Linked DNA regions of Homo sapiens: regions 2 and 3 are each linked to region 1. The links come from fine-mapping of genetic effects on gene expression. A gene starts in region 1. Each other region holds a variant in brackets. All regions are shown on one strand. Distances are between the middles of the regions. Region 1 holds the start of CXCL8 (C-X-C motif chemokine ligand 8). Region 2 overlaps INKILN (inflammatory MKL1 (MRTFA) interacting lncRNA). Region 3 holds the start of LOC107986229 (a long non-coding RNA gene).

The links. PIP is the estimated chance that this variant, and not a neighbour inherited with it, causes the effect.
Region 2: its variant is the best candidate, but not a certain one, in a credible set for the expression of CXCL8 in whole blood (INTERVAL, PIP 0.62).
Region 3: its variant is the best candidate, but not a certain one, in a credible set for the expression of CXCL8 in spleen (GTEx, PIP 0.90).

The regions. Positions count from the first base shown.
Region 1 is chr4:73,738,693-73,744,837 of GRCh38, forward strand. CXCL8 (C-X-C motif chemokine ligand 8) reads left to right here and starts at 1,877. Exons shown (of 4, transcript NM_000584.4): 1 at 1,877-2,030; 2 at 2,850-2,985; 3 at 3,257-3,340; 4 at 3,757-5,024. The coding sequence starts at 1,967. The coding sequence ends at 3,772. RefSeq lists a silencer at 340-634.
Region 2 is chr4:73,703,127-73,709,271 of GRCh38, forward strand. INKILN (inflammatory MKL1 (MRTFA) interacting lncRNA) reads right to left here. Exons shown (of 3, transcript NR_185098.1): 2 at 3,211-3,449. Among named protein-coding and RNA genes, the nearest start is that of UMLILO, 4.1 kb to the right of the region's middle. RefSeq lists an enhancer at 4,866-5,160. The variant T/C (reference allele first, on the strand shown) is at 3,196.
Region 3 is chr4:74,582,486-74,588,630 of GRCh38, forward strand. LOC107986229 (a long non-coding RNA gene) reads right to left here and starts at 2,620. Exons shown (of 3, transcript XR_001741513.2): 1 at 2,528-2,620; 2 at 1,530-1,609. The variant T/C (reference allele first, on the strand shown) is at 3,396.

The DNA of each region.
Region 1 (6,145 bases):
AAGCAGTCCCATTGGTCTTTCTTCTCCTCATTAACAATAAAGGTAACACTTTTGATGTTGTTTCTTCAGAAAACCTTCATTCATCAAAACTGCCTCAAAGATCATGTTTGTTTGATTCCAGAACTTCCTGTAATTACCTGTTATTGTAACACTCATCACTGTATTTTACTTACTTGTGTAACTAATTTTCCATATTCTGCACTAGACAACAAAGTCCTTTAAGTCAGGTACTATATCTATTTACATAGCATTCACATCTCCTACAATAAGGGACATTAGCAGATAAACAACACATATTAAATGAATAATGAAGTTTCTGAAATACTACAGTTGAAAACTATAGGAGCTACATTATATAGAATAAACATTTACTTTGCTATAGAATTCAGTGTAACCCAGGCATTATTTTATCCTCAAGTCTTAGGTTGGTTGGAGAAAGATAACAAAAAGAAACATGATTGTGCAGAAACAGACAAACCTTTTTGGAAAGCATTTGAAAATGGCATTCCCCCTCCACAGTGTGTTCACAGTGTGGGCAAATTCACTGCTCTGTCGTACTTTCTGAAAATGAAGAACTGTTACACCAAGGTGAATTATTTATAAATTATGTACTTGCCCAGAAGCGAACAGACTTTTACTATCATAAGAACCCTTCCTTGGTGCTCTTTATCTACAGAATCCAAGACCTTTCAAGAAAGGTCTTGGATTCTTTTCTTCAGGACACTAGGACATAAAGCCACCTTTTTATGATTTGTTGAAATTTCTCACTCCATCCCTTTTGCTAGTGATCATGGGTCCTCAGAGGTCAGACTTGGTGTCCTTGGATAAAGAGCATGAAGCAACAGTGGCTGAACCAGAGTTGGAACCCAGATGCTCTTTCCACTAAGCATACAACTTTCCATTAGATAACACCTCCCTCCCACCCCAACCAAGCAGCTCCAGTGCACCACTTTCTGGAGCATAAACATACCTTAACTTTACAACTTGAGTGGCCTTGAATACTGTTCCTATCTGGAATGTGCTGTTCTCTTTCATCTTCCTCTATTGAAGCCCTCCTATTCCTCAATGCCTTGCTCCAACTGCCTTTGGAAGATTCTGCTCTTATGCCTCCACTGGAATTAATGTCTTAGTACCACTTGTCTATTCTGCTATATAGTCAGTCCTTACATTGCTTTCTTCTTCTGATAGACCAAACTCTTTAAGGACAAGTACCTAGTCTTATCTATTTCTAGATCCCCCACATTACTCAGAAAGTTACTCCATAAATGTTTGTGGAACTGATTTCTATGTGAAGCACATGTGCCCCTTCACTCTGTTAACATGCATTAGAAAACTAAATCTTTTGAAAAGTTGTAGTATGCCCCCTAAGAGCAGTAACAGTTCCTAGAAACTCTCTAAAATGCTTAGAAAAAGATTTATTTTAAATTACCTCCCCAATAAAATGATTGGCTGGCTTATCTTCACCATCATGATAGCATCTGTAATTAACTGAAAAAAAATAATTATGCCATTAAAAGAAAATCATCCATGATCTTGTTCTAACACCTGCCACTCTAGTACTATATCTGTCACATGGTACTATGATAAAGTTATCTAGAAATAAAAAAGCATACAATTGATAATTCACCAAATTGTGGAGCTTCAGTATTTTAAATGTATATTAAAATTAAATTATTTTAAAGATCAAAGAAAACTTTCGTCATACTCCGTATTTGATAAGGAACAAATAGGAAGTGTGATGACTCAGGTTTGCCCTGAGGGGATGGGCCATCAGTTGCAAATCGTGGAATTTCCTCTGACATAATGAAAAGATGAGGGTGCATAAGTTCTCTAGTAGGGTGATGATATAAAAAGCCACCGGAGCACTCCATAAGGCACAAACTTTCAGAGACAGCAGAGCACACAAGCTTCTAGGACAAGAGCCAGGAAGAAACCACCGGAAGGAACCATCTCACTGTGTGTAAACATGACTTCCAAGCTGGCCGTGGCTCTCTTGGCAGCCTTCCTGATTTCTGCAGCTCTGTGTGAAGGTAAGCACATCTTTCTGACCTACAGCGTTTTCCTATGTCTAAATGTGATCCTTAGATAGCAAAGCTATTCTTGATGCTTTGGTAACAAACATCCTTTTTATTCAGAAACAGAATATAATCTTAGCAGTCAATTAATGTTAAATTGAAGATTTAGAAAAAACTATATATAACACTTAGGAAAGTATAAAGTTTGATCAATATAGATATTCTGCTTTTATAATTTATACCATGTAGCATGCATATATTTAACGTAAATAAGTAATTTATAGTATGTCCTATTGAGAACCACGGTTACCTATATTATGTATTAATATTGAGTTGAGCAAGGTAACTCAGACAATTCCACTCCTTGTAGTATTTCATTGACAAGCCTCAGATTTGTCATTAATTCCTGTCTGGTTTAAAGATACCCTGATTATAGACCAGGCATGTATAACTTATTTATATATTTCTGTTAATTCTTTCTGAAGGCAATTTCTATGCTGGAGAGTCTTAGCTTGCCTACTATAAATAACACTGTGGTATCACAGAGGATTATGCAATATTGACCAGATAAAAATACCATGAAGATGTTGATATTGTACAAAAAGAACTCTAACTCTTTATATAGGAAGTCGTTCAATGTTGTCAGTTATGACTGTTTTTTAAAACAAAGAACTAACTGAGGTCAAGGGCTAGGAGAATATTCAGGAATGAGTTCACTAGAAACATGATGCCTTCCATAGTCTCCAAATAATCATATTGGAATTAGAAAGGAAGTAGCTGGCAGAGCTGTGCCTGTTGATAAAATCAATCCTTAATCACTTTTTCCCCCAACAGGTGCAGTTTTGCCAAGGAGTGCTAAAGAACTTAGATGTCAGTGCATAAAGACATACTCCAAACCTTTCCACCCCAAATTTATCAAAGAACTGAGAGTGATTGAGAGTGGACCACACTGCGCCAACACAGAAATTATGTAAGTACTTTAAAAAAGATTAGATATTTTGTTTTAGCAAACTTAAAATTAAGGAAGGTGGAAATATTTAGGAAAGTTCCAGGTGTTAGGATTACAGTAGTAAATGAAACAAAACAAAATAAAAATATTTGTCTACATGACATTTAAATATGGTAGCTTCCACAACTACTATAAATGTTATTTTGGACTTAGACTTTATGCCTGACTTAAGGAATCATGATTTGAATGCAAAAACTAAATATTAATCTGAACCATTTCTTTCTTATTTCAGTGTAAAGCTTTCTGATGGAAGAGAGCTCTGTCTGGACCCCAAGGAAAACTGGGTGCAGAGGGTTGTGGAGAAGTTTTTGAAGAGGTAAGTTATATATTTTTTAATTTAAATTTTTCATTTATCCTGAGACATATAATCCAAAGTCAGCCTATAAATTTCTTTCTGTTGCTAAAAATCGTCATTAGGTATCTGCCTTTTTGGTTAAAAAAAAAAGGAATAGCATCAATAGTGAGTTTGTTGTACTCATGACCAGAAAGACCATACATAGTTTGCCCAGGAAATTCTGGGTTTAAGCTTGTGTCCTATACTCTTAGTAAAGTTCTTTGTCACTCCCAGTAGTGTCCTATTTTAGATGATAATTTCTTTGATCTCCCTATTTATAGTTGAGAATATAGAGCATTTCTAACACATGAATGTCAAAGACTATATTGACTTTTCAAGAACCCTACTTTCCTTCTTATTAAACATAGCTCATCTTTATATTTTTAATTTTATTTTAGGGCTGAGAATTCATAAAAAAATTCATTCTCTGTGGTATCCAAGAATCAGTGAAGATGCCAGTGAAACTTCAAGCAAATCTACTTCAACACTTCATGTATTGTGTGGGTCTGTTGTAGGGTTGCCAGATGCAATACAAGATTCCTGGTTAAATTTGAATTTCAGTAAACAATGAATAGTTTTTCATTGTACCATGAAATATCCAGAACATACTTATATGTAAAGTATTATTTATTTGAATCTACAAAAAACAACAAATAATTTTTAAATATAAGGATTTTCCTAGATATTGCACGGGAGAATATACAAATAGCAAAATTGAGGCCAAGGGCCAAGAGAATATCCGAACTTTAATTTCAGGAATTGAATGGGTTTGCTAGAATGTGATATTTGAAGCATCACATAAAAATGATGGGACAATAAATTTTGCCATAAAGTCAAATTTAGCTGGAAATCCTGGATTTTTTTCTGTTAAATCTGGCAACCCTAGTCTGCTAGCCAGGATCCACAAGTCCTTGTTCCACTGTGCCTTGGTTTCTCCTTTATTTCTAAGTGGAAAAAGTATTAGCCACCATCTTACCTCACAGTGATGTTGTGAGGACATGTGGAAGCACTTTAAGTTTTTTCATCATAACATAAATTATTTTCAAGTGTAACTTATTAACCTATTTATTATTTATGTATTTATTTAAGCATCAAATATTTGTGCAAGAATTTGGAAAAATAGAAGATGAATCATTGATTGAATAGTTATAAAGATGTTATAGTAAATTTATTTTATTTTAGATATTAAATGATGTTTTATTAGATAAATTTCAATCAGGGTTTTTAGATTAAACAAACAAACAATTGGGTACCCAGTTAAATTTTCATTTCAGATAAACAACAAATAATTTTTTAGTATAAGTACATTATTGTTTATCTGAAATTTTAATTGAACTAACAATCCTAGTTTGATACTCCCAGTCTTGTCATTGCCAGCTGTGTTGGTAGTGCTGTGTTGAATTACGGAATAATGAGTTAGAACTATTAAAACAGCCAAAACTCCACAGTCAATATTAGTAATTTCTTGCTGGTTGAAACTTGTTTATTATGTACAAATAGATTCTTATAATATTATTTAAATGACTGCATTTTTAAATACAAGGCTTTATATTTTTAACTTTAAGATGTTTTTATGTGCTCTCCAAATTTTTTTTACTGTTTCTGATTGTATGGAAATATAAAAGTAAATATGAAACATTTAAAATATAATTTGTTGTCAAAGTAATCAAGTGTTTGTCTTTTTTTTAGTTTTAGCTTATTGGGATTCTCTTTGTTTATATTTAAAATTATACTTTGATTTAGAAAACATAAATGCTTCCCCTTAGCATTTTGTTTATGGAAAATTACAAACTTTTATTTTTAGAAAACAGAACTCCTTTCCAGAAATAGGTTACAAACAGTAGTGTCCTCCACAGAATGTTGGAAATGTTTTCAACTCCCCACTGTATACTATCTTGCTAATAAGTCTGTCTTCAGATTTCGATTAACCGGTTTGTATGTCTGTGCGCTTTAGCATAGCTGGACATTTAAAGAGGAAAGAGAGTACATATTATAAGTTGCTTATCAGTAACTGAGGAGTAAAACTGATAAATGTGAGGCAAAGAAGTTTAAAATATGGTTAAAGCCTAAGCATATTTGCAAACAAATCAAACAATACTCTGAGAAGTAAAAACATAATTATTTAATTAACAAATTTCAGTGGATAAATTTTATAACAAATTAGACACAGTTGAAAATAAAATTAGAAAACTAGAAAATAGAACCAAAGAACTTCTGGAATTCTTATAAGAGAGATAAAGAGGTAGAAATTTGGAGAAAGAAGTCGAAAGGCGTAGAGGATACAGGTGTAAGCTCTAATAGATGTCTAATTGGATTGTCACAAGCAGAAGAGAGAGGAAAGGGTCAGAGACAACATTTGAAGTGACAATGGCAAAAATCTTTCGGAAATGATGAAAAATAACAATCGATGTTTCAACAAATCCAATGTATCAACATTTACCTTTATATTCCTACTCAAAAAACAAGGATTTTGGAACTTTTACGTTTAACCACCTTCTAGCTCATAGGCTATTGTTGCTGGGTATTTTAAGTTCACTTCTTTTTTTTTTTCTTTTATTTTATTATTATTATATTTTAAGTTTTAGGGTACATGTGCACAATGTGCAGGTTAGTTACATATGTATACATGTGCCATGCTGGTGTGCTGCACCCATTAACTTGTCATTTAGCATTAGGTATATCTCCTAATGCTATCCCTCCCCCCTCCCCCCAGCCCACAACAGTCCCCAGAGTGTGATGTTCCCCTTCCTGTGTCCATGTGTTCTCCTTGTTCAATTCCCACCTATG
Region 2 (6,145 bases), 36 kb before region 1:
GGGGATAAAGGGCTAATACTGAGGTTAAAAGGAGGGAACCACTGGAAGTCCTGAGCAAAGGGGGTTTGGGGTAGAAGAAAAGAGTAGGATGAGGGGTATGAGGGTCCTTAACCAACTTTAGGGAGTTGACCAACTGAGTGAACTGAAAGTCAACAACTGTGATATTGCAACAGTATGAGAAATGTGTGCCCAAGGCAGTGACTAGGGTTCAGACACCACCCTGGACTCCCAAGTCATTCCTACCTTATATTTTTGTAATTCTTTCCAGATATTTGTCAAACTAAGATTTAGGCCATGTAGGACAAGGATTGATCTGTTCCCTGTCATCCTCAATGGGAACACAGTTCTGGAGGCTCCACATACATTCAGTTTACCGACTCTACAAGCACATGTTAAGCATCAAGTATCTGAATAGGGCTCTGAAAGCCACAGATAGCACAATTCTTTCTATCAAGGAGCTCACAGTGTGGCTGAGGAGGCAACAGGCTATCTGACAAGGAGAGTGCCAAGCCCTTCTCAGGATGTGGGATAGGTCTCAGGGATAGCCCCTGTCTTAAAGAGTATACCTATGAGTTAAAATACATAATCATGAAAGAGAAAACTGAGATGAAGGAGTGTTAGACTTGAAGTAAGAGTTTTGGAAAAAAATTCTAGGAGAAATAGTTGAAGAGCTGAGTTTTGAAAACGAGTAGTTATTATTGTTACATTGAATTTAATTATCTTTCTGAAAAAAAGTTTTCTTTAAATTTATATTTTTTTCTTCTCACAGCTTTTATAGTGTCGTGCTTTGAATCCAGTAAGTGCATAAGGAATTGGGGAAGGACGTTTGGGGAAGGGGCTGGAGTAGTTTTAAAGGTTAAGACTTCCAGAAGGGACATGTAAGCATACATATATAAGCATTTATTTCTTTCAAATATGACTTCTTGGGCAATTAATGGAATAACACTTTAATTAAAGTCCTTTTATGATAACATAGAGCAGTGGAGCATGGCTAGGAAAAATGAAGAATCATACTCTTTCCTATCTTGATTCTTCAATGGATTCTTGAAAAAGTGTAAGAAGAGGTAAACTCATTATTTGATAGTTTAGAAACCTAGCCAACTCTGCAGGCATTTATCAAGACATTTCAATTGTTTGGTTTTATGAAAGTCTTTGTTTCCATCATTATTGCAAAGAATAAACTTTTATTTGTTCACTGAAGAGTTTCTAAAGCGTTGGAATTTTAGCAGCAGGAAATTCATTTCTCAACTTGCACTTATCGCCTAAGAGGCATCAAATTGCTCATGAATTAATAGGCTAAAAGGCCTTATTGTTTCCTGGTGGGACTCTTTCACAGCGCTGGAGAAAACTGAATACCAAGTGTTGCTCATCATGTGTCTTGGGATATGTTACTGAGGGTCTGAGATTTACATAGAATTTATAGGAAGCAATGAAACCGAGTTAAGTAGAGAGGAATCTAGATCCTAGAACAATGCTGTGGAGTCAGAAGGCTGTGCCAACAGAACCTTTAGCTACTACTTCTTTCGCACATGCACTGAGTCAGAAAATGCTGTTTCATGGGCTGTAGCTACTTGTCAGGCCACTGACTCAACAAACTGAAATATTAGCCAAGTAAAATGTTGCGCAATTCCAGCTGCTCATTCATAGCACAATCTGTAGCCTCAGATTTGCCAGTCTTAGTCGACTAAGAGGAGCCGACATGAGGCAAAAGGAGAAACAGTCTGACCTTAGCTATAAAGGACAACAGGATGCCAGCACACTAGGGTCATGAGTGCTCTTTTCCTCTTTCATTGAATTGGCGGGCCCATGACTAATTTATGCAAATATGACATGGAAAATAATTTCTTGAAGAGAGCTGCTTTGTGCCAAATTCTCCCTGCTTTTCTTTTGGTCTGGTCTATGGATGATATTAGCTTATTTTAGGGTCAGGCTTCCAATTTTCCTGCAAGACAGGGCCAAGAAATGTTTATTTCACAAAGAGGCCAAGGTCTCAGATGCAAGACTACAACTGAGTGAGGCCCCAGAGGAGGATGACAATAGAAGATGGTTTCACTGGCATTCCATTCCTTTCTCCTCCCCACACCCAATCTCAGAGTGGCCATGGTTCACTGAAGGAATAGTAATTGTCATTTAAACCTGGGAACAGTGGTGCTTGGTACTTGAGGGGTGACTCATTTAAATTTATTCACGTTCCCACTGGAAAAACTCTCTTCTCTCAACTAACAGGATATGAATACCAATTCCCTAAGGTCATTAAGATACTAGAAGGAACTTTCATTATAATAAAATAAAGTATCTAGAAAAATTATTCTGCAATAGGAGAATGATAGTCCCTTGGTTCTATAGGAGCCCATTGTTGGTCAACAAGCGTTTCCAGGCATCGCTTACAGTCCCTCTGAATTCTACCTGCGATGCGGTCTAAACATACTGCTCCTCCACCTGCACTGTCTTGAACTGGGTGGCTCCATTTTTTTCCCTAGATTTCATTCATTTTCTTTTTCTCCATCTAGTTAGCTCTGTTGGCAGAGAATGTTTGTCCTAGAGTTTGTTCTCATTGGACTGCTTGGTGAAGGTGGTTCTTTTAACACAAGCTGTGGCTCTAGAAATGAAGCATTAAAGATCGAGTATTTATTCCTCATGGGCTAGACATCCTTTTCCATGTGTTGAACTGCTATAGCATTCTGTATTCAAGTAGGAATTCCCAGTAATTAGCTCTGGGTCCACTTTTATTGCTCCCAATCCATGTCTACTGGAAACACTGAGTTCTGAGCAATGACTAATGTCTGCATGCCCTGGTGAATGAATGATCATAAGTGAAGGTGGAGAGAAATAGCACTTCACAGGTGGAAGGGACCTAAAAAATAAATCTGCCCCATCTCTCTCAATTTCCTGATGAACAAAGAGATATTCAGAGAAGTTACTCATTCACAGTTGCTTGTTGGTGGTAGCCAAGTCTCTGATATCCACTTCTAAGGCACTGTTAGTTACACTATGATGTCTATTATCTTAACATTATGAAAAGGGTTGCAATAAAATATATTCAGTTCTACAAATAGTTATTGATTCTCTCCTATGTACAACTACAGTTTATCATATGCTGGTCACAGATGTCAGTGCTGGGGATACCCACAAAGTCTTTGCTCTCCTGGAGTTCACATTTAACCCAAGGATAGATTACAAGAAAAACACGATTTG[T/C]ATTATGGTTATGACCTTTAGTTGTCACACTATGCAATGAGATAATTTGCACTGGAAATGGCTGGCTGCATGTTGCTTTACAAGTGTAGTAAGCATGTTATCTTCTGTCTTCTGTGGCATTCCAGATTTAAAACTCTTCTGCTCCATGAGTGCATGCTTAGGGCCAGGTATCCTGTTTTCTGGTTCTGAAGATGTGGTCACAGTAATCATGGCACTTGGCAGGGTAGGCTGTTTAGAAGGCATGCAACAAGCAACTGGAGGAAACCAGAGAGAAAGCCAAAGAAGAAAGTTATCCAAAACCAGTTGGGAAAATTTGTTTTATACTATTTTAGATTATATATATATATATATATTTTGCTAAGGAGTTATAGTAAATCAGAGTTTTCTGTAAATATTTTTTGTAAAAAATTAATTACCTCATGAAATAGAAAATAAAGGAGTTGAGGGGAGCACTGAAGAGACTCCAGCAATGTGGCCACTGGAAGGCAGCTTCTCTGTAGAAAGGCCTTGCCTTAACCCTGGTAAAATAACCCCTCAGACCTTTTTTGCCTTTGATTTCAAGCTTTTTTCAAAAAAAAAAACAACAAACAAAAAAAACCCACAACATTCTACTGACTGGATTACAGCGTAGAACGCTGGCATTCTGAAGGTTTTAAATAAAATATTACTAATGCCACTATATATATAAACCAAATTGTCTGAATTCTTCTAGGCAGCAACTGTGTCTATAACAGTGACTTGATAATTTAGACAAAAGTAATCCATCAAAGAAAAGTTATCCATGTGTTCCACATATGCCATGCTAAGTAGTCTGTCCTCCACAGACAAGACCTAGTCCTTGCCCTAGGGTAGCTTATATCCAGATGGAGAGACAACATGAGATAGATACTCCTGGTCAGATATTCTTAGTAGCAAATCAGACTAAAGGCCACAGTAAGTCCAGAACCTTAGTTTCCAACGACATAAATGCAGAAAACTTGTACACTCTAACTCATTACACTGATGTGATGATTATAATATGCATAAAGATGTCTAGATTACAGACTTTTGAGAAGTCACAATCAGGATCCTATTTGAGTTAAGTAGAATATCTGATTAAAACATCTATGTTGAGTACCTACTATGTGGCATATAGTAGGTGCTCAGTATAGATGTTTGCTAGCTATTTAATTTGATTGATCCCATGAGGGCTCACATTTCATGATGCTTTACAGCACAGGTCCCCAGTCCCCGGGCCTGGACCAGTGTGTGACCTATTAGGAACCAGGATGCACAGCAGGAGGTGAGTGGCGGGTGAGCAAGAAAAGGTTCATTTGTGTTTACAGCTGCTCCCCATTGCTTGCACTACCATCTGAGCTCCACCTTTTGTCAGATCAGCTGTGGCATTAGATTCTCATAGGAGCACAAATCCTCCTGTGAACTGTGCATGGGAGGGATCTCGGTTGCATGCTCCTTATGAGAATCTAATATCTGATGATCTGTTACTGTCTCCCATCATCTGCAGATGGGACCATCTAGTTGCAGGAAAACAAGCTCAGGGCATCTACTGACTCTACATTATGGTGAGTTTTATAAGTATTATCTCATTATATATTACAATGTAGTAATAATAGAAATAAAGTGCACAATAAGTGTAATGTGCTTGAATCACCCCTAAACTATCTCCCTACCCCTTGTCTGTGGAAAGATTGTCTTCCATGAAACTGGTCCCTGGTGCCAAAACGGTTGGGAACCGCTGCTTTATAGCACTCAAGATAAGCAAAGTGCCTGCAGCCAAGGATGTGAGTCACCAGAACTAGGTGGAAGAACCACTCTGAGAAAGAAACTGCTAGCACAGGAAAGCAAAAACGACTTCCTCTTGCAATCGTGTCTTAAGAATTTCTGTTAGAATTTTCTTTTCCATTTCTTTCTCTTTTTTATTTTCTTTATAAACTTTTAAAGCCAGTTTCACAACTTGCATATAAAGAATGTCAGCTGCTTTATTAGTGGTGTTCCACTTGGCACTTATAGGGAAGCCGGGCAGTCCCGGTTCTTAGGATAAACACACTTTATAGTGGATTTTCTTTATCCAGCCCAGCAGGCTGGCTCTTTCCTTGGGAATAATATTGGGCATGTGATTGTTCCATCTTCAGATCCTGTATCAACCCGCACATGCTCTTCCAGCTTGCAGCTTTCAAAACCAAAGACATGGCTCCCAAACTAGCTACTTTCCAAATCTATTTTAATGAAGGTGCTTCAGGGAGCTGATGATACCAATCCACAAAACAATTTCACAGGGAGAACTGGGCCCATTGTCTCAGCTCTGTGTCTTAGTAGCTTTGCAAAAGATCATTTCCCAGAGCCTGAGTTTCCAATGACATAAATGCAAACAATTTGTAAAATCTAACTCATTACACTGATGTGGATGATTATAATATGCATATTGATGTCTAGATTGCTGACTTTTGAGAGTATAATAAAGCAAATGTTACAAAGAAGGTGAAAATGCAAATATATATTAAGAATCTGCTTTAAGCTAGGCATGTGCTGGCTTTATATATGGTTCTATTTATTTGATTTTTAATACAATTTTATAAGAAGAGAGTATTAGTTATATTTGATAGGTAAAATAATGAGGACTCAGTTATTCAGAGTCACACAGGCAGCAAACAGAGGGATTGGGATTCTACTTATAAACGATTTGACTTTATACCAGTGCTCTTTCAACTGGACTAGGTGGCTGCTGCCACACAATAAATCACACCATCAGAGAATCTTCTAGGTAACTGTTTCACTAAAATGCAATTTCTCTGAACAAAGAACGACAATTTTTGGCCAGGAGAGACATTCTGAGACTATACAAAAGTATACAAGGATCACTTACCTTCTTAAAAAATATTGTTCTGCCTGTGATCCTTTTAGAAAATAGAAAACAACAATAGAAAACTCCAGTGGAGATTTAAGAATTTAG
Region 3 (6,145 bases), 840 kb after region 1:
CAGACTAAGACACATAGTAAAGATACGAATTTTACCTCACTGGAAATGAATTGGAAACTTTTGAAGGATTTCAATAAAGGAGAGTAGGACCTGACTTATGATTTAATAGAATCAGTCTAGCTGCTCTGTTTAGAATATGTTGTAGGAAAGTTGGGAAAAGAAGCATGGGATCCAGCAAGGAATTCAGGCAGTAGATGGTGATGGCTTTTTCAATGTAGCAGGAATGAAAGTGGTGAGACAGGAACATTGAGGATAAAATATCCAACTGAAATACTGTCTTGGATATCAGATTTATTTTGAAAGTAGAGCCAACAGATTTGCTTACCCATTTAATGTAGACCATGAGAGATATAAAAAGATAAGCCAAAAAGGACTTCAAATCCTGAGATAATAGATGAATTCAGTTATCATTTTGCTTAGATACATAAATCATGGGGATGAATAGTTGGGGAGATTATAAGTTAAGATCTCAACTGTGGACAAGTTAAGTTTGAAATGTCTATTCTGTATTCAAGTGGAGATGCCCAGTAGACAAATTTCTGAACTGAAGCTCAAGGGACCAAAACTGTAAATGTAAGTTTAGGAATTTATATTTAATAGATGACATTTACAGTCATGAGCATGGACAACCTAGGAAATGAGAAGACGAAGGTCTGAGCCCTGTGACACTTCAACACAGGCTGGGAAAGAGCTGTCAGTGAGGAAAGAAAAAAAAAATGCAAGTGTTTAACCCTAGATCAAGCCTTGCTCCACATGATAAATGATCACCTAATAATAAGTGTCATATGACAAGCTTGGCCTGTAGGAGTGGTGTTTGTTTTAGCTCTTTCAAAAGTGTCTCATGTGGGTTCCACAAGATGATAGTTGAAATCCTGGGTGTGGCAATGTTTAAAAATTTATTTTTAATCTTACTCCTTCTTCTTTATTCCCTGGACTGAGTAGGGACTAATCCAGCCATTTTCTATGCAAGTGTTTCTCACAATAAGCATGAAAATTTTCTGGGTGCTTATTGAAAAATGCACATTCCTGAGCTCCAACTCAGATCCACTGAATCAGAAACTCTGAGAGTAGCATGCTGGAACTTACATTTATAATAAGTTCCCAAGTGAGTTGCCATGCACATTAATATGGAAAACAATAAGCTATTCTTGTATTCTCACCTTGTCATAAAGAAGGAAAGGAGTTAATTGTAAAGAGTCAAATTTGGGGCATTATAATGGGACAAGGATCTTTTAGAGAGGATAGCTAAACAAATACTATAATCAGATATTGGCATTACCACTCCTGGCCACTCATTACTTTGTAAGTATCTATAGATAGTCTCATTTTGATGAAAATAAGGAATGCATAGTATTTTTTCTAAAGATATCTTGGCACCAAAGTGAAAATATCTTTGCAGGTGTTGTGTCACAACCAGAATTCCCTACTTCCATTTAGAAAAACATTATTTAAGCTATTGCCTGCAGAAATGTTGCAACATATTGTTGGCAAACAAATCTAGCAGCCATAGCATGGAAAGAGAAACTTACCCTTTTGATGAGCTGGTTTTGTAGATTCTCCTTTTACTGTTGAATCCAAAGGTGCCCTCTACTAGTGGATTCTGGTTTGACTAGATTAGAAAGATGAAAAGTTGAGAATGTATTTTAGCAAAGTTATTTTTGAGCAACTATAGAAATAATAGTTTCCACCATTTGTTGGTGTGTGTATGTGCCAAGCACTATAGTAAGGCATATACTATTTTATTTAATCTTTACAATAGTGCTGTGTTACAAATGAGGGAGTTGATTTTAGGAAGTGTTGCAAGCTGGGGAGCAGGTGAAATGGATCACAGTACACAGGGAATTTATTAAGGAGTGCCCTTTGGATCAAAACTAGTTGAAAGGAGAGAAGAGAAGCAGTAGTAGGCAGAGGGAGGGAGGGGAAGAAGTTGAGCTGTGATGCAGCCTCAAAGAAAGCCTCAACCAACCACAGGGAGTTCTAAAGCTGTAAGGGTCCAACAGAGTGGTCTCAGGTTGGGGAAGTATGGCCATGCCTTTACTACCCAGCATCAGTCAGTAATTAAAGGCAGACTATACTGAAAAAAGGCATGACTTGGGGTAAGGAGCTTATTTGCAGCTGAGGCAATGCCTGAAGCAGCAGAGGAGCCAAAGGTTGTCTGCAAAGAGCACTTTCAAGTTGGGGCAAAAGAGGGATCTGGCCATTGAAGAGGGATCTGGGAGGCCCATTACAGTGCCCACCTCAGGGAACCAAGATGTCAGCTAGAATGTGAGAAAGCTGAGAAGTTTAATGTAAGACAGTTTGATTCTAAAAGTAATTGTCTAAATCAGGCTAAAGAATTTCACACATGTATTTTCAAGCCAGAGGTGAGTTATTAGAAAATGAACAGTTGCTATCATCAGGAATCATTTCTATAGATTGCGTTCCAGGATAATGCACAGGAGTATCAATTAACTCTTATTTGGTCTTCATATTTTTTAAGTATTTCCTCATTTTGAACATGTGGCCAGGCCAGTATATATTTTCTTACCTTAAGACTTTTGCAGGACAGAAAAGACTTGATGCTTGGAGTGAAGATATCTTTCTAAATACTAAGTTCATTGAAGAAATGATGTCTGCCACCCTGATGGGGGATGGGGAGAGAAGAGAGGGAGAATGGCTGAGGGGAACTGAATGAGAGAATGGCAACACTTGACAAAAAAAGAGGGAAAGGAAGAAATGAATCCCAATTTAAAGCAAATCTCAGTGTAATATGCTACAGTTTGCTTGTCTGTCCCTCCAAATTTCATGTTGAAATTTAATCCTCAATACTAGAAGTGGGGCCTAGTGAGAGGTGGGACAGACCTTTCACAAATGGCTTCGTGCTGTTCTCATGGAATGAGTCAGTTTTTGCTCTATTGGGTCCCACAAGAGCTGGTTGTTAAAAAGAGCCTAGCACCCCACCCCCCAGCCCACCTATTTCCTCCTTTCTGGCCATGTGATCTCTGCACATGCTGGCTTCCCTTCACCTTCTGCCATGAGTGGAAGCAGCCAGAGGCCTTCACCAGATGCCCAATCTTCCAGCCAGAAGAATGAGGAGCCAAATAACCCTTTTTCTTTATAAATTACCCAGCCTCATATATTCCTTTATTGCAATGCAAAAATGGACTAAGACATAGTGGAAGGTGAAAGAACTAATTGCTATCAGAGGCAGTATCTAGGGAAGGTGATAAGACTTTGAGATGACTACCTGGTACCCCTGGGGATATAGAAACTAGGCGTCCAAGTGCCCATGCTTCAAAAACTATGACAACAGAGCCTGTGATGTGGAAGGGGCCATTCATTCTGGAACAACAGAAGACTCAACAAGTGTGGACTAATGAACAACGGCCAAGTGAACATCCCAGTACTGTGGTGCA[T/C]GCCCATGGGATGAGGAAACACCCTAATGAGGACTGAGATAGAATTTCTACCTACAAAAGTGAGATGTGGTCCCAGAGATGGATTTAAGTCTAGTTACAGAAATCTTAAAAATGAAAATTCTCATATTTCTGAGTTTTTAGCAGTAATATTGTCAGGAGAGATGTAATAAAAATAGGAAAAGATCATGGATGTCAGGCATGGCCAAGATTGTAATTGCCGTCCTTGTTAGAAAAAAAGGAAAAAGAACATGGGAAGGAAGAAGAGAATGAAAAGAGGAGGAGGAAGCAAGGAGGAGAAGGAAGAGGAAGTACCAGTAGTTATCTCTGTATGCTGGCTGATATCTTCCTCAGCATCAATCTACGCACTCCAAAGGGAATAGAAGTGACCAAAAGTGGTGGGAAGTGAGGGTGTCCAGGAGATAAATTGTATGTCTTGAAACACAAACTGCAGGAGGCAGGCTGCTGAGCAACTATGTAAACTACCCATATCGTGGCGAGAAGTACAAATGCTGGGGACCAGAGGAACTACTGTCCAAATACAGTCATTTTATTCTTTGACTGCTTTATTAGATGTTATACTTTTTTAAAATTGTCGAATGTTAGCAGGCACCTGTCCTTAAAGATAGAATCAAGCTGGCAGGCCTGGCCACTTGTCCCTTCTGATTCTCAAAGGAAAAGCATCACTGATGGGTAGAAATCTGTCTTTCCCTAAAAAAAGAAGGGCAAAGTACAGTAGCATGGAAGGGAATGAGAATTATAACTGTTTTGGGAAGAATTTTATTTGTGCTGCAAAAACATTACAAAATCCACAGGTCGACCATGCTGTTCTGCCTGTTCCCCTCCACAGCTCTATCTAGCTCTTGCCCCTTGTTTGTCTTAATTTCAATTATGTTATTTATTGTTTAGAATTTTTGTACTATGTAAGTTTAACTTCAAATTACTTTCATTAATTATGAAAAGTAACATTACAAACCTCTATATGGTCATCACCCAACTATATACAATCTTAACCTTTTGCTTATTGATATTTACTTCTTGTTTTGAAAAAGAAATGATGCACAGTATATTCAGTTAACACTCACTGTATACTCTTACCTTATTCTTCCCCTCTCTCCCCCAAAGTAATCCCTATCCTAAATTTTGTGTTTATCATTTCTGTGCATACTGTAATCCATAAATAATATGTAGTATTTTTTCATGTTTTAAAAATTACATAAAGAATATTATATTGTTCATACAATTCTACCACTCCTTTTGCTCCAAATTATTTCAGCTTTTTTTTTTTTTTTTTTGAGATGGAGTCTCACTCTGTCACCCAGGTTAGAGTGCAGTGGCGCGATCTTGGCTCACTACAACCTGTGCCTTCTGGGTTCAAGCTATTCTCCCGCCTCAGCTTCCCCAGTAGCTGGGATTACAGGCAAGCACCACCATACCCAATTATGTTTTGTATTTTTAGTAGAGACGGGTTTCACCACATTGGCCAAGCTGGTGTCAAACTCCTGACCTCGTGATCTGCCCGCCTCAGCCTCCTGAAGTGCTGGGCTTACAGGCATGAGCCACTGCACCTGGCCTATATTTAAGCTTTTTTGAGGTATAATTTATATATAATAAATTCCACTTTTAGGTGGTTCATTTTGACGAATTTTGATAATTATATCAATTGTTTAACCACCAATATAAGCTATAGAAAAATTCCTTCATCGGAAAAAGGTTTTTTGTGCCCCTTTGATCCCTGGTTCCTGTCCAGATCTTCCATGTAAGCATCAGGTAGAGGTGTAAGGAAAGAGTTGGCAGGAGAGTGCAGCCTTCTCCTATGGAAGCATACCACGCTAACACTCACTAGTAAGAATTCTATGGCAGCCATCTCTTCTCACTGCTGCGATAAATGTCCAACAGCTTGTTTCTGTCCTGCTGTCCTCAGAATGACCTGTCAACCTTGGGTCTTAGCTCACCAGGTGGCCTTGCAACCTCAGCTCACTAATGGGCTGCAAACATCATGATTTTGCAGACTCTCTGGTTTGTTCTCATTGTTAGAGTGGAAGGGGTTTTCTCTTGTGGCCTTCTTCATCTTAAGCGTAAGCCAAAGCTTCTTTAGATGGATAATAGTGGATATCAAACACTTTGTTGTGTAAATTATCTTGGGTGGAACAGTTTTATTTTAAATAGTCTATATTTATATTTGCACAAAGTTATGTATTGTGCAGTGGCCTGAATCTCCAGTGAAAAATTTTAGATCTCAATTTTAAGATGTGCTGGGTTTTTCAAAATTCTCCTAAGAGGTAAGCAGGTAAAAAGTAGGTAAAAATACTTATATCATGCACAACCCCTATAAAGCTTACATATTCCCAGATTCTAGTGGGAAATATAGGTTACCATATAGTGTCATACATTTTAGAAGAGAAGTAGTTTCAGAGAATTGTGAGAGAACAGAATATAAGTGTTTTGGTTAACCTCGGTATGCTGGGACTTCCGGGTTGATGCTTGGAAAAATAATTTCTTTCTAGTGCTCCATATCAGGCGTCAGCAAACTTTTCTGAAAAAGAACAGACAATAAACATTTTAGGTTTTGCAAGTCATATAATCTTTGTTGCAACTAATCAGTTCCCTTGTTATAATAAGAAAGCAGCCATAAACAGTATGTGAATGAATGGGTGCACAGTGTTTCAATAAAACTTTATTTACAAAAACAGGCAGTGGGCAGGATTTGGTGTACAGATCATAGCCTATAGACCTCCTCTCAATTGTGATCA